Linked DNA regions of Homo sapiens: regions 2 and 3 are each linked to region 1. The links come from fine-mapping of genetic effects on gene expression. A gene starts in region 1. Each other region holds a variant in brackets. All regions are shown on one strand. Distances are between the middles of the regions. Region 1 holds the start of ERVK3-1 (endogenous retrovirus group K3 member 1). Region 2 holds the start of RPS5 (ribosomal protein S5). Region 3 overlaps ZNF544 (zinc finger protein 544).

The links. PIP is the estimated chance that this variant, and not a neighbour inherited with it, causes the effect.
Region 2: its variant is fine-mapped to the expression of ERVK3-1 in putamen (GTEx, PIP 0.98).
Region 3: its variant is fine-mapped to the expression of ERVK3-1 in substantia nigra (GTEx, PIP above 0.99). The same link has a PIP of 0.9 or more in whole blood.

The regions. Positions count from the first base shown.
Region 1 is chr19:58,303,097-58,308,345 of GRCh38, reverse strand. It overlaps ERVK3-1 (endogenous retrovirus group K3 member 1), which reads right to left and starts at 2,969. Exons shown (of 4, transcript NM_001396080.1): 1 at 2,901-2,969; 2 at 2,130-2,258. It overlaps ZNF8-ERVK3-1 (ZNF8-ERVK3-1 readthrough (NMD candidate)), which reads right to left. Exons shown (of 7, transcript NR_144447.1): 5 at 2,130-2,258. RefSeq lists enhancers at 2,263-2,763, 2,978-3,247.
Region 2 is chr19:58,386,647-58,391,792 of GRCh38, reverse strand. It overlaps RPS5 (ribosomal protein S5), which reads right to left and starts at 4,524. Exons shown (of 6, transcript NM_001009.4): 1 at 4,454-4,524; 2 at 3,548-3,656. The coding sequence starts at 3,655. MIR4754 (microRNA 4754) reads left to right here and starts at 4,935; the gene lies at 4,935-5,023. RefSeq lists enhancers at 4,214-4,263, 4,457-4,751. The variant G/A (reference allele first, on the strand shown) is at 3,058.
Region 3 is chr19:58,244,906-58,250,154 of GRCh38, reverse strand. ZNF544 (zinc finger protein 544) reads right to left here. Exons shown (of 7, transcript NM_014480.4): 5 at 3,728-3,854; 6 at 3,361-3,444. Among named protein-coding and RNA genes, the nearest start is that of ZNF544, 19 kb to the right of the region's middle. The variant A/G (reference allele first, on the strand shown) is at 2,450.

The DNA.
Region 1 (5,249 bases):
CAGGGGCCAATTGTTTTTGGATATTACTGAAACATCTGCTCCTGTGTCCATACACCCACAACACTTCTTTCCTTTAATTTGCACTGCACAGGTGGGTCAATTAGAAGCTATGGGTTGGGATAGGTAAATTTCCTGTGTAGTTGTACTCCCAAATTCTTGATTTCCTCTTTTCTCCTTTCGTGAAGAAGGGTGTAATTTGCAGAGAATAATAATAAGCAATAGCTGAGCAATATATTTCCCAGGTTTAAAAACCCAAAGATCTTGTGACATTACAATTACTTGAATTTCTCCTTCATAATCAGAGTCAACAATCCAGGGATCACAGTAATGCCCTGTAAGTTCAGATGGCTTTGGCCTAAAATTAATCCTGTATATCCTGTTGGCAAAGGTTCCCAAATGCCTGTGGGAATTCTGGTGGGTTTGTCTCCTCCAACTAACGTGACCCATTCTCTGACTGAGCGATCTAATCCTGCACTCCCCGGTGTTCCAGAGGAGAGGGAGTCAATGTTCCTCCAGGAACCCACCCCTGTAGCAGGGTTGTGGCCTGGATGGGGAATGCCCTCATTGTTTGAGGGGCCCAGGCCCCATTCTCATTTCCTGAGAGCGGGGTGCCATTCTGATGAAATTTTGAGCAACACTGATTAGCCCAATGATTTCCTTTATTACGGCGAGGGCAAAGTCCTGGTGTTTTTTTTTCTGTGTGTGTGTGTTGGGGGGAGCGGGGCGGGGAGGGGGGGGCGGTATTGCATTGTAAGATCCCTTCTGCCCAGAGGTCTGATGGTATTCTTTTTTGAAATGTCCAATTTTTCCACAATTATAACATTTTCCCACTTTAGGGCTCAACCCTTGGCCCTTTTCAGATTTGTTCACTACTAAATTAGCTATTACTTGAGCTAACACAGTTGAACGATGGAGTTCAGTTCCCACATCCTGACAGGCTTTGAGAAAATTTCCCAAGCTGTTTGTACATCTCACGGGTGCTAATGCACATTTACAATCTGCATTTGCATTTTCAAAAGCTAGGGTCAAAGTAAGCATTTTCGCAGGAGCAGTATGAGGAATCTGATGCCTCACTGACTGTTGTAACTGTGCAATAAATTGTGCAAAGGGCTCCTGTGATTTTTGCATGATATGCGGAAAAGATTTTATTGAGACCCCTTTCTCAGGAATGGTGGCCCAGGCACGCTTAGCGGCCAGGCGCACTGATGGTAAGCAGCATCTGGAAGTGTCAATTGTTGCACCAGATCTGAATAAGAGTCACTACCCAATAGCATTTCCTCTGTAATGTTCCCATGTCCAGCGGTGAGATTCTGTCTAGCCTGGTCTGCACACATTTCTTGCCAATTTAAATTCCATGTCAAATATGCACTAGCAGAGAAACAAGTGCAAGCTAAATGCTTTATATCCAAGGGTGGGAGGCGCATAGTGCTGAATACAGATTCTAACAATCCTAAAGTAAATGGGCTCTGTATTCCATTATTAACCACACTAGCTTTTAATTCTTTCAATAATTTAAATTTTACTGGAGTGTGTTCATGAATAAACTGCTGTGGATTATTTGGATCAGGCCTTAAGGTAATAGGAAAAGTGCAAGGTCCTAGTGGCTCGCCAGCTATGGCCACAGCATGTAGAATTTTTTGTACTGGGGTCTCTATTTCTGCTACTGGAGGGGACAGTACAGGCCAGTTCTCATCCTCCCTCTCCTGTTTATCATTTTCAATGGGCGCTGCTGGTGAGACAAAAGATTCTTTCAATTTTTGAGATTCAGAACATAGCACCTGCTGTCTGGCAGAATAAGAAGAGGACAATGGCAGGAGGACAGTACAGACCAAACCCCAAGCAGAGAAAATAGAAGGATCCACTTTAAGAACTTTCTGATGAGCTCGTTTCAATCTTTCTCCTACTCAGTCTCAATTTTCCACAGCAAGAGTACCTGTCTGCAGAAACCATGGGTTATGTGTAATAACCTCCTGCAGAAGCTTAATGTTTGAGAACTAACCCGAGCACCAGATTGTTTAAGTAAAACTTTAAGCAGCTGCACATAATGTTGCTCCTCAACAGACAGATTCTGCCCCATGTTACCCTGATTCAGAAACCTCCCGCTCCCGATACCTTCTCAGGGAACTGACCTTATATTCTCCGCCGGCAGACTCTCCCGTCCAGGGGTTCGTAGTTCGTCTGATCAGTTTCACTTTCTCTGCTCTGGCAGACCTTCCTCGTTCAGGTCCCTGGTCGGGCACCACTTGTCACGGTTGCTTCTGGACCAAACGAAGGAGAACGAAGGCAGAAATGAAGACAAAGACAAAAGGATCTGTTTGAAAGAAGGGGTCAGGGGGCTCCTAGATTCTAGGGAACAGGGCCCTGAGCTTTTACAGCCCTTCATATTTGTTAGGTAGACTGAATAGGGAGGAAAGGGTAACTGACGGTCAGCTATTTGATTTAACACAGGCCCACATGACTGCTTTCTTTGTTCAGCAGGTTCCAGATGTTCCTGTAGATAACCTCAAGGAGCAGGGGACCTGGGACATGACTGCCCCCAGCATTCCTTCTGGCGGCAGACGCAGTTTGTCAGTTTACCAACATCCTGCTTTCATGAGAACAGTTTGCGGTTTGCTCATAGAGCCTCCAGTGGTATAATGAGTTGGTCACGACCCTCATTCCTTCTGCCTCCAACACAGAATGCTCCCCTCCCACGGGCGCATAAGCGGTGACACCCGGCAGGACATGGCAGGTCGCGCCCTCACGCACCGCGCGCCTCTCTGCCCGCGCCGACCCGGGGTCGCGTTCCCCTCACAGGTCCCACCCGTCCACTCATTCACTCCCACCATCAGCACACTTAGGCCACGGGCGCCTCTCCATCCCTCACAATCACCCTCGCCTCTCCTCCACACACCACTCACCACTGTGGCAGCCTCCTCAGAGAGCCTAGCCGCCCGATAGTCCGCGCGCCCGTGAGCGTCTTACACACTGCCGCCGGCACTTCCGGTACGCACTTCCGCCTGGTGGCCAGCGGCCGCCCAGGACCTCACCTCCCAGAAGGCCCTTCGCCTTCCTGCCTGGAAACGGCCATGCACGGGATACAAGGCCTTCTGGGAAATGGAGTTCACAGCGCTGCGGGGCCGGAAGGGGAGCGTGGGAGCTGCGGATCGTCAGAACCTCTCGGTTCTGCGCAGGCAGCGCACCGGAAGGGAAGTATATTGACATCCATGGTTTTATATGTTCTTTGAAATATACAGCGTATGTACTTTTTTCTTTCTCTACGCGCACACATGTACACACATAGATATAAAAGTATATCGTTTGGAGATATTTTTCCCCCCTGAACCTTGTATATCCTTAAGCAGATGTCCCCTAAGAACACGTACATTCTTCAACTCACCCAAGTAACGACATTGAAGCCTGTACCCAATCCCCAGCCCATATGCTAATTTCTCCAGTTGTCCCAATGTCTTACGTAGTTTTCGTCTTTTATTCAAGCACAAACTAAACACGCATTACACTCTACTGTCTCATTTCAAGTTGCTTTCAATCTAGAATGGATCCTGTTGTTTCTTTATAATGATCTTGGCAGTTTTCATGTATCCAAGCGAGTTTTCCAAAATGCCCTCCAATTTAGGCTTGTCCGTATAGAGTATAAAACAATCATAATATAATTTTACAGGTTTTCTTCCACTGACCCTGCACATTTCTCCACTAAACATTTTTTGAAAACTTTCTGAAACATGGCTAGTATTACACCGTATGAATGCCATTTCTTTATCCCCCACCTCCAGCCATTTAGCTAGAAATTGAGCAACAGGTGTATGCAGTCCCTGTACATTCCTATTTCTGTATGTCCAGGAGACTCTCTGATAACAGGCAGGCCCTGCATGATGCAAATCACCTTAATCGAGGGAGGTGCCGGGGTACAGTGTGGGACATGATAATTCCATCTACACGCAGAAGGCCTGTATGACCTAGTGGAGGAGGCTCCCAATGTGCATACTGACTCGGGTTACACCTCCCTACTCCTACCACAGTCAGATCATCACAGGGGGACTTTAAAAATTCTATCAGCTCTGGGCCGGGCATGGTGGCTCACGCCTGTAATCCCAGCACTTTGGGAGGCCACAGTGGGAGAACCACTAAAGCCCAGGAATTCGAGACCAACCTGGGCAACACAGTGAGTCCCTGTTGCTATAAATGAAAAATTTTTTTAATTAAAAAAATTTACATCTAAATAGCTATACATGACTAGTGGCTACCATGTTGTACAGTGCATTCTGGAAGATGTCCATGTTGGATCTCCTTACAAAAGACCTATGGGAGACTGCTTTTCAGACTGGATGCTGATTTCTTCCCAGTTACCCATTGCAGAAACAACTTGAATACCTTGGAGGACATGAAGATAACACTGGAAATGGGGGACTTGGCTATTGGCTAAAACTTGTATGTAGGGGGCTCTCATAATTGGGGCTCATTGATACAGGAAATTTAACAAAGTAACTTGGAAATGTATGTGTGCGCTACAGCCACCCTCCAGGGACCTTTATCTTGTATCTTTGGTATCATCGAGTTGAAGCTGTTTTACACTCAACTGTTTCTGTCAACTGAACACACACACACACACGAGTATATATAGAACAAGTATGAATATGACCAAGACACACACTCTCTGCTCATGTGAACACTGTATGGGGGATGCAGACAGTAAACAATGAAAGAAATTATCAAACTTACTTTAATTTGAAACAGTTAAGATTTTTGTTTAAATTTATTTTTTGAACTGGTAATAATTTTACATGTTTCAAAATTCCAAAAATATAAAATGATAAAGAGTGAAAATTATTCCTCATCACTGTCCTCCCAATTCTTCTGGCCAACCAGTATGCCACTTTTACCCTTTCAGAGATTATGTGTGTACATATAAACAAATGTTTCTTATTTATTTATTTATTTTTGAGATGGAGTTTCGCTCTTGTTGCCCAAGCTGGAGTGCAATGGCACAATATTGGCTCACTGCAACCTCCACTTCCTGGGTTCAAGCGATTCTCCTGCCTTAGCCTACGGAGTAGCTGGGATTAGAAGTGTGCACCACCACACCCAGCTTTTGTATTTTTAGTAGAGATGGGGTTTCACCGTGTTGGTCAGGCTGGTCTTGAACTCCGGACCTCAGGTGATCCACCCGCCTCGGCCTCCCAAAGTGCTGGGATTACAGGCGTGAGTCACCTTGCCTAGCCTGTTTCTTCTTTACATAAATGGAAACATAC
Region 2 (5,146 bases), 83 kb before region 1:
CACCATGCCAGGCTAATTTTTGTATTTTTAGTAGAGCTGGGGTTTGGACATGTTGGCCAGGCTGGTCTTGAACTCTTGACCTCAGGTGATCCGTCCGCCTCAGCCTCCCAAAGTGATGGGATTACAGGCATAAGCCACTGCACCTGGCTGAGAACTTTTTTGTTTTTGGGTTTTTTGTTTGTTTGTTTTTGAGATGGAGTCTCACTCTGTCACCCAGGCTGGAGTGCAACGTTGCAATCTTGGCTCACTGCAACCTCCACCTCCTGGGTTGAAGCAATTCTCCTGCCTCAGCCTCCCAAGTTGCTGGGATTACAGACATGCGTCACCATGCTCAGCCCAGTTTTTTTTTTTTTTTTTTTTGAGATGGAGTTTCGCTCTTGTTGGCCAGGCTGGAGTGCAATGGCATGATTTCAGCTCATCCCAACCTCCACCTCCCAGGTTCAAGCGATTCTCCTGCATCAGCCTCCTAAGTAGCTGGGACAACAGGTGCACGCCACCATGCAAGGCTAATTTTTGTATTTTTAGTAGAGACGGGGCTTCACCATGTTGGCCAGGCTGGTCTCAAACCCCTGACCTCAGATGATCTGCCCGCCTCAGTCTCCCAAAGTGCTGGGATTACGGCGCCCGGCCCAGAACCACAGTTTTAAAACAATCATTTAACAAGTCTTCTTATACTTACATAGCCATCCCCACACAAAAATCTAGAAAAATGCCAAAAAGTTAACCTTGAGTATGTAAAGGGGAAGAAAGGAGCTATGTGCATTCGAAGGAGACTGCTGTTGATAGTTCCATTACAAAATGTACCCAAGGCCATTCTATCACTTGCCTCTGAGAATATACACAAAATACCTGTTTCTACAAATACAAGGAATGATGGGAAAAGAACACAGGACACTGAAACTCTCAGTACTATTTCATAGTCTGGCTGCAAGAAAAAAAAAACTCACAGTCTCGTGAAGGGCATTCACGCAGGGCTTTCACTATGCAGCAAAAAATTGCAAACACCAAATTCCCCAGGAAGGGTTTGGCCCAACAGTGGAGCCCTGCACAGGTGTTTAAAATACAGTGAACTCCCATTGATGTTTATTTCCCTAGTGGAACAGGCACTTAACAAACGTTTAATAGATCAAGGAGTTCAAGGCCAGCCTGGCCAACATGGTGAAACCCTGTCTCTACTAAAAAGACAAAAATTAGCCAGGTGTGGTGGCATGCACCTGTAGTTCCAGCTACTAGGGAGGCTGAGGCAGGAAAATCACCTGAACCTAGGAGGTGGAGGTTGCAGTGAGCCGAGATCGTGCCACTGCACTCCAGCCTGGGTGACAGAGCGACTCCATCTCAAAAAAAAAAAAAAAAAAAAAAAAAAAAAGTAACAGTGGCCAGTGTGGCCCACAAAGTCTAAAACATTATCTGGGCCTATAATGAAAATGTTTGTGGGCTGGGCGCAGTGGCTCATGCCTATAACCCCAGCACTTCGGGAGGCTGAGGCAGGAAAGTCGCATGACCCTGGGGAGGCAGAGGTTGCAGTGAGCCGAGATCGCACCACTGCACTCCAGCCTGGGAGGCAGAGAGAGACTCTGTCTCACAAATAAATAAATAACGCCAGGCGTGGTGGCTCATGCCTGTAATCCCAGCACTTTGGGAGGCTGAGGCAGGCTGATCACCTGAAGTCAGGAGTTAAGAGACCAGCCTGACCAATATGATGAAACCCTGTCTCAACTAAAAATAAAAAAATTAGCTGGGTGCGGTGGCATGTGCCTGTAATCCCCGCTACTTGGGAGGCTGAGACAGGAGAATCGCTTGAACCCAGGAGGCAGAGGTTGCAGTGAGCCAAGATCGCACCATTGCACTCCAGACTGGGCGACAAGAACGAAACTCTGTCTCAAAAAATAAATAAATAATTAAAATGTGGCCGGGCAGATCATGAGGTCAGGAGTTCGAGACCAGCCTAACCAACATGGTGAAACCCCGTCTCTACTAAAAATACAAAAATTAGCCAGGCGTGGTGGTGTGCGCCTGTAATCTCAGCTACTTGGGAGGCTGAGGCGGGAGCATTGCTTGAACCCGGGAGGCGGAGGTTGTGGTGAGCTAAGATCGTGCCATTGCACTCCAGCCTGGGCAATAAGAGCGAAACTCCGTTTCAAAAAAATAAATAAATAAATAAACAAACAAAAAATAATAATAATATTTAAAATGTTTTTGGACCCCCCGAAATAAACCCCTGAAGGAAAGAAAAGCCAAGATCTACAAGATATTCAGAGTGAAAAACAAGGCTGAATTATCCATTAGGCATAGTGCCTAAGTCCCCTGACATCTTTACAGACAACAAAAAAGTTTTCATTCTTTATAAAACAAAAGGTAGCAGGTTTGGTGGCATGCATCTTTGGTCCCAGCTAGTTGGAGTCTAAGACAGGAAGATCCCCTGAGCCCAGGTGTATTGAGGCTGCAGTGAACTGTGATCACACCACTGCACTCCAGCCTGGGTGACAGAGAGTGATCTTATCTCAAAGATAAAACTTTAATGATTAAAAAAAAAGAGGAGGAAAGTGAATAAAGTGCAACCCAAGTTATATTCATCTTTATATCAATGCAGTCACAAAATATAATTTCAAACACTTTCTTTTAATGGAGGAAGGGCTCACAAAAGCTAAAGTTCTTAAGGCCCACAAAATTCTTAATGATGCCTTCATGGGGAGGGGAAAAAAAGGGTATGTGTAAAACCGTACGGAGTAGGAACAAAGTAGGACAACTCACACTTCCCAATTGCAAAACTTAATACAAAGCAAGAAAGTGTGGTACTGGCATAGAGACAGACATATAGACCAGTGGAATATAACTGAAAGTCTGTAATGAAACCCATACATCTGGGCCGGGCGCGGTGGCTCACGCCTGTAATCCCAGCACTTTGGGAGGCCGAGACGGGCGGATCACGAGGTCAGGAGATCGAGACCATCCTGGCTAACTCGGTGAAACCCTGTCTCTACTAAAAATAAAAAAAAAAAAATCAGCCAGGTGCAGTGGCGGGCACCTGTAGTCCCAGCTACTCAGGAGGCTGAGGCA[G/A]GAGAATGGTGTGAACCCGGTAGGCAGATCGCGTCACTGCACTCCAGCCCAGGGAACAGAGTGAGACTCCGTCTCAAAAAAAAAAAAAAAAAAAAAAAACTACGGCCAGCTGATTTATGACAAGTGGCCAAGGCCATTCAATTGAGGGAAAAAAAACATCTCTTTAGGAGATGGTACTGGATAACTGGATATTCACATGCAAAAGAATGACACTGGATGTTATGTATTTTACTACAAAAACAGTAACAAAAATACCATATGTGAGATGTGATGCTCCTTCTGGTGAAGGAGTCCTCTCATGACAGAAGTTGTAGTCATCTTTGAACAGGACGTAAGAGCAGATGTGGTAGATGTGGTGGTCAAGGGATCCCTTCTTTACCTGTTATGATCTCTATTCTTGACTTAATGGCACAGCAACAAGTTTGATGTGTGCCTTCCTGGAATAATGTCCGCCCCCAGCCAGGAAGGCCAATCACCAAGTTCCCCTCACCTGCAGGGAAATGTCATTGATCTGCACATCATCGGTGCTCCACTTCCCAAAGAGCTTGATGTCTGGGGTCTCTGCCACCGCTGGTGCTGCTGTCTCCCACTCGGTCATCCTGGGACAGGGTGATGACAGGAAAAAAACGTCAGAGCTCAGCTAGCATGGAGCAAAGGCGCACTCATTCCCAACTCTGAGGCTAGCCGCCATCTAGTGATGAACTGGGGGGTCGCAAAGGACCAAGAAAGGCCGTGAACGTGTTTTCAAGCACTAGAAAAATTACTCAGCTGTCAGCAAGAAGCATCTGTCTTTCACCTAGAACCCCTGGGCCCAAGACTTGGCAGCCACCAGTCAACAGCTGCTGCACTGGGACCAAGGTATAATGGCTCAGCAGATGCCATACGTCCTCACACTGCATGGGCTGTAATTCAAACCACAATCTCGCGATTTACATGGTCTTTGACCCAAGTCAACGTTCCGTCTCGGACTGTTTCTTTGGCCGTGAGGCGGGACCGTTATATGACATCAAGGACCACGGTAGGTACCGTGTGGCACAATCAACCCAAAGGTTTCGATTCTTGACCGACAGTATGAAGGCTCTAGGGGCTGCTATTACGGGGGGAAAGTTACACAGAGCAAAAGAGGGCATCGTGTCCCTAAGAAATGGAAACTTCCTATCTCAGAGTACAACCGCATAGTTCAAACCAAGTTCCCCAAGCCCCGCTATGGGGAAAAGCTAGAAGCGGCGGAGCACCAGAAAGAAGTCAAGAGTAACTCGGCCCGCGCCCGTTTCTTCTACATTTTCTTTTCCAGAGACAGAAATGAGACCTAATGAGAAAAGGCCCAGGCCGCGGGGCACTATCCCCGAAAGACCATGAACCGTCCCTAGGATCCCCGGCCCCGCGGCGGTCTCACCTGAGAACACAGCCTGAGCGTCTCTGTCACTCGGCGTAGACCACGCGCCGCCCTGGTACAGACAGGAAGAGGCCGCGCGCCGCGGGCCAACACTTTTAACTGGGAAGAAAACTTCCGGGTCAGCACGGGTGACGCTTGCGTAAAAGGCCATCGTGTCCCTATAGACCAATCCGGAGGAAGGTTGTAGAGGAACCTTTTGGGCTAGACGGAATGGGTGCAGCCCAAGCGCATGCGCAGTTGCAGAAGCGGCCCTAGAAGCGTGCCTGGCGGATGTCCGCTACCCCGTAGTTGCCCTGTCTTGTGGGCGCCTGCAAAAGCGCAGAGATTTCCGTGAGACCAACGCAGCCATGTCTAATAAAGAAAAAAGTCTGGCCAGCGCTCGCTTCTTTGTTCAGCTGCTGACCTTAAATCCCACCTGCCGCGGGAGTAGCCAGTTCAGTTCCCTCTGACTCCTCGCCGCGGCCACAGCCGCCTCACCGGCACGCGCCTGATGCGGACCTGGGTTAGCGGAGTGAGGCCCAGTGGTCACCGCCGCCCTCCGCAGGTCCAGGTTGCCGTGCGCATGTGCCTGCCACACGCGGCCCCTCCCCCACCGCCCGGCCCAGGAGCACCACGCTCGCGAGCCCCGGATCCCGAGCCTCTGGCTGGGCCTGTTTCCCTGCTCGACCTTTCCTGCCATACCACGCTGGGTTC
Region 3 (5,249 bases), 58 kb after region 1:
TCTTGTCTTGAAAAACTAGGAGCCTTTTACCTGTGTGGAACTAGTTCTTACTTATGTTTACCAGCCAATTGGACTAGAACCTTTACACTTGTTTATTTAGCCTGTGAAATTAATATAGCTCCCAAGAACCAATCCCTCATTATACCTTTAACTGCAATTGCCAGACACAAATGAACCATCCAACTCACATCCCTTTTGGTAGGACTACAAATAACCGCGGGACTGGGAATGGGAGTCAGCCGGGTTGTAACATCCCTATCCTATTACCAATGCTTTTCCAAGGATTTTATGGAAAGCTTGAATGACATTGCCCAAAGTAAAAAAGAAAAAATAGAGACATTGGCCAAAGTATCATCACCATACGAAATCAAATAGATGCCTCAGCAGCAGTTGCTTGGCAAAACAGAAGGGGATGAGATCTCCTAACTGCTGTAAAGGGGGGCTTAGGTCTTTTTCTAGAGGAAGAATGCTGTTTTTATGCCGAACAATGAGGATTAGTAACAAATGCCACCCAAAAACTACCCAACTGGGCCTCTAAAATACAACAACAGCTATCTGAGTCATGGGGCTCCTGGTCAAAAATGCTAAGTTGGGGTTCATGGCTCCTTCCTCTGGCCAGCCCATTAGTAATGACTATACTTGCCTTGGTTTTTGGACCATGTTTGTTAAACTCTTAACCAAATTCATTTCCTGTCACCTAGAGACCATCAAGCTTCAGATGATCATGTGACAATGTTTCCAGCCAGTTCCAGGTGGAGACACCACCCCTGGCCATCAAGAAGCTATCCTGTCTCCACTAGACAGGGCGGGGAGAGAGTCCTGTGATTCCCCAGTACGTAGGGACTGTGCCTCAGGTCAGCATAAAGCAGTTACAGAAGAAAGACTATCAATCCCTTTACCTCCCATAAAGATTTATGAGGATCATGTCTTTCGGGGGGAAATGAGGTATGAGAACAGGGTATGGAGGCAAGAAACCTAAGGGTGATTAATGCTGACTTCCTGGAACTGAATCAAAAGGAAAACCCAAACTTTCCATGCCCCAAATAACAAAAGGATCAGAGGCAACCCCCGCCTTCTGTGTCGCAGATGAAAAATGGAAAGTACCTCTTCCTGCAACCAATGAGACTGGTCACTGGCCTAGTTTTCATCTGCATAGAGGTGTAACTTTGTAACTTCACTTCAGCCTCTGTTGGTCACCTTCCCCAACCAATCAGACTAGTTATGGGCCACTACTTCATTTACAGAGGATATAAACCAAGTAACCAATGGGAAACCTCTCGGGATTTAAACCCCAGAAAATTCTGTAACCAGTGCTCTTGAGCTGCTTGCTCCAGACCACTCCCATTGTGTGGAGTGTACTTTCATTTTGATAAATCTATGCTTTTTTTGCTTCATTCTTTCATTGTTTTATGCATTTTGTCCAATTCTTTGTTCAAAATGCCAAGAACCTGCACATCCTCCACCAGTAACACCAGGGGCTGGGGATGAGGGAGGGATGAATGGGTAGAGCACAGAGAATATTTAGGGTAGTGGAACTACTCTGTCTGATACTATAATGGTGGATACATGACATTGTACATTTGTCCAAATGCACAGAATATACAACATCAGGAGTGAAGCCTGGCCAGGTGCAGTGGCTCATACATGTAATCCCAGCACTTTGGGAGGCTGAGGTGGGAGGATCACTTGAGCCCAGGAGTTCAAGACAAGCCTGGGCAACACAGTGACACTCCATCTCTACAAAAAATTTTTACATTAGCCAGGCATGGTGGTGCATGCTGTGGCACCTGAGGCTGGGGTGCAGAGAGGTGGGAGGATCACTTAAGCCCAGAAGGCTTAAGCTATGACTGCATCACTGTCTCAAAAAAAAAAAAAAAAAAAGAAAAAAAAAAGCATGAACCCTATCATAAACTATGGACTTTGGGTGATAATGATGCCTCAAGGGCAAGGGGTAGTGGCTCACGCCTGTAATCCCAGCACTTTGGGAGGCTGAGGGGGGCGCATCATGAGGTCAGGAGATCGAGACCATCCTGGCCAACATGGTGAAACTCTGACTCTACTAAAAATACAAAAATTAGCTGGGCGTGGTGGTGCGTGCCTGTAGTCCCAGTTAGTTGGGAGGTTGAGGCAGGAAAATCACTTGAACCTGGGGGGCGGAGGTTGCAGTGAGCTGAGATCACACCACTGTACGCCAGCCTGGTGACAGAGTGAGACTCTGTCTGGGAAAAAAAAAAAGGATGCCTCAAGATAGGTTTGCCGATTGTAACAGATGTACAATACAAATCCAAGTTGTTAACAGCAGGAGACACTGCATGTGTCTGTAGGACAGCAGACATGGGTGGGAACTCTGCACTTTCTCGTCAACTTACCTATAAACCTAAAACTGCTCTAAAAAATAAAGTCTATTAGCCTGGGCAACATGATGAAACCCTATCTCCATTAAAAATAC[A/G]AAAATTAATGGCCAGGTGCAGTGGCTCATACCTGTAATCCCGGCACTTTGGGAGGCTGAGGCAGGTGGATCACCTGAGGTCGGGAGTTCGAGACCAGCCTGACCAACATGGAGAAACCCCACCTCTAATAAAAATACAAAATTAGGGCCAGGCGTGATGGCTCACACCTGTAATCTCAGCACTTTGGGAGGCTGAGGCGGGCGGATCATGAGGTCAGGAGATCAAGACCATCCTGGCTAACACGGTGAAACTCTGTCTCCACTAAAAATACAAAAAATTAGCCGGGCATGGTGGACATGCCTGTAATCCCAGCTACTTGGGAGGCTGAGGCAGGAGAATCACTTGAACCTGGGAGGTGGAGGTTGTGGTGAGCCGAGATTGTGCCATTGCACTCCAGTCTGGGCAACAAGAGCGAAACTCCGTCTTAAAAAACAAAAACAAAAACAAAAGAATTAGCCAGGTGTGGCAGTGTGCACCTGTAGTCCAAGCTACTAGGGAGGCTGACGCATGAGAATTGCTTGAGCCAGGGAGATGGGGGCTATAGTGAGCCAAGACAGCGCCACTGCACTTCAGCCTGGGCAACAGAGTAAAACCCTATCTCAAAATAAATAAATAAATACATACATTAATTAAAAAAAAACAAATCAAGTAAAGAGGCCTAAATGGTTGGGATGATGAACATGTTCTAGAACTGATTGTGGTGAGGGTTCCACACTCAGGGAAGACACTGGAAGCCATGAACTGCATACTTCGAATTGGTGAACTCCTTTGAATGGGTGAACTGCTGCAAAGAGCACCCAAGGAGGCTTCCTCCAAACAAGGCTCCCTCCTTGGCCCCTGGGGCCCTGCGGAGAGCTCTCTGTCCAAGCTTGTTAAACGTTGAGCTGCTCACCACAAGGTCTGCTCTTACCTCGGGGGGCCTCCTGCTCTGCCCTGCACAGGTCCTCTTCTTGCTCCAGCTGAGAGATCACATCAGATTTGGAAAGGAAAAGCCCTGGTCAAAGACGGAAAAAGGACTTGCCCCTCTGCTTGGACACCAAGAACCATGTCCTGGGTCCAAGCTTCAGCCCCTAGTGCTGTCCCGAGGAAACTCCCCACTGTTAGGACTACAAGTCACAAACCTGTCCCAGAGATAGAATGAAGGGCAACCCCTGGGAACTGCACCTGAAAGGGACCTGCTTCCAGTATCTTCCAGCACATCCCAGAACACCCTTCAGAACTTGGTACAGCTTTGAGTCCTAGGGGTAGAACCTCCTTCCATGAGCACAGCCACTTACCCAGGGAGACAATATGCTCCCAGGTCTCCAGTGTCACCTCTCGGTACAGTGTCCTCTGGGCCAGGTCCAGCTGTTCCCACTCCTCCTGTGTGAATGCCATAGCCACATCCTCGAAGCACACAGATGCCTGAAACAGGGCACTTGTTACTGCTCAGAGACCCCAGGTCCTCATGCCCTCACGGAGGTACCTGTTAAGGCCTAAATGTTGGTGTCCCCCCGTAAAATTCATACATTGGAACCTAATACCCAGTGAGATAGTGTTAAGAGGTGGGGTCTTTACAAGGCAATTAATGTCCTCATAAAAGAGGCTTGAGGGAGCCTGTGTTCACCTTCTACCATATGAGGACATGTAAGAGGTGCCATCTATGAGACAGCAGGCCCCAACCAGACCAACTCTGTTGACACATTGATCTTGGACTTACCAGCCTCCAGAACTATGAGCAGTCAATTCTGTTGTTTGTAAATTGCTCACTCTAAGGTATCTTATTATAGCAACCCAAACGGACTGGGACAGCTCCATGTATGTGGTCTGTACCATTCCTTTTCTGGGCATCTCACCTCTTGCCAGTCACAGCAGTGGTCCTGATTTCTAGACTGGAAATGACAGGAACTCCACTAGGAGATCCTCACCCACTTCCTCTCTACAAAAATCACAGATTCGAAATGAGGTAAGAAAGACACTCTAAATCGGGGTGGGAAAACTGCAGCCTGTAGGACAAATCAGGGCTGTGGTGTGTTTTCAAAAGGCTAATGCTATAGAATAAACTGTGTTCCCAAAATTCACATGTTGAACCCTAACTCCCAAAGTGACTGTTGAAGAAGGTGATTGACCGGGCACGGTGGCTCACGCCTGTAATCCCAGCACTTTGGGAGGCCGAGGCGGGCAGATCACAAGGTCAGGAGTTCGAGACCAGCCTGGCCAACATGGTGAAACCCCGTCTCTACTAAAAATACAAAAATTAGCCAGGCATGGTGGCACATGCCTGTAATCCCAGCTACTCTTCCTGGCTGCAGCAGGAGAATCGCTTGAACCTGGAGGCAGAGGTTGCAGTGAGCTGAGATCGCGCCATTGTACTCCAGCCTGGGTGACAGGGTGAGACTCCATCTCAAAAGAAAAAAAAAAAAAAAACCCCACAAACAAGGTGATTAATTTTAACTGTTTAAGAACTGTTCAAGAAGGTGACAGGGGGTCGGGCGCGGTGGTTCATGCCTGTAATCCCAACACTTTGGGAGGCCGAGATGGGTGGATTACTTGAGGTCAGGAGTTCGAAACCAGCCTGGCCAACATGGTGAAATCCCATCTCTACAAAAAATTAGCTGGGTGTGGTGGCGGGCACCTGTAATCCCAGCTACTTGGGAGGCCGAGGCAGGAGAATTGCTTGAAACCAGGAGGCGGAGTTGCAGTGAGCTGAGATTGTGCCACTGCACTCCAGCCTGGGCAACAGAGCGAGACTCCGTTTCAAAAAAAAAAAATGGTGATTAAGATTAAATGAAGTCACAAGGGTGGGACCCTAATCCAATA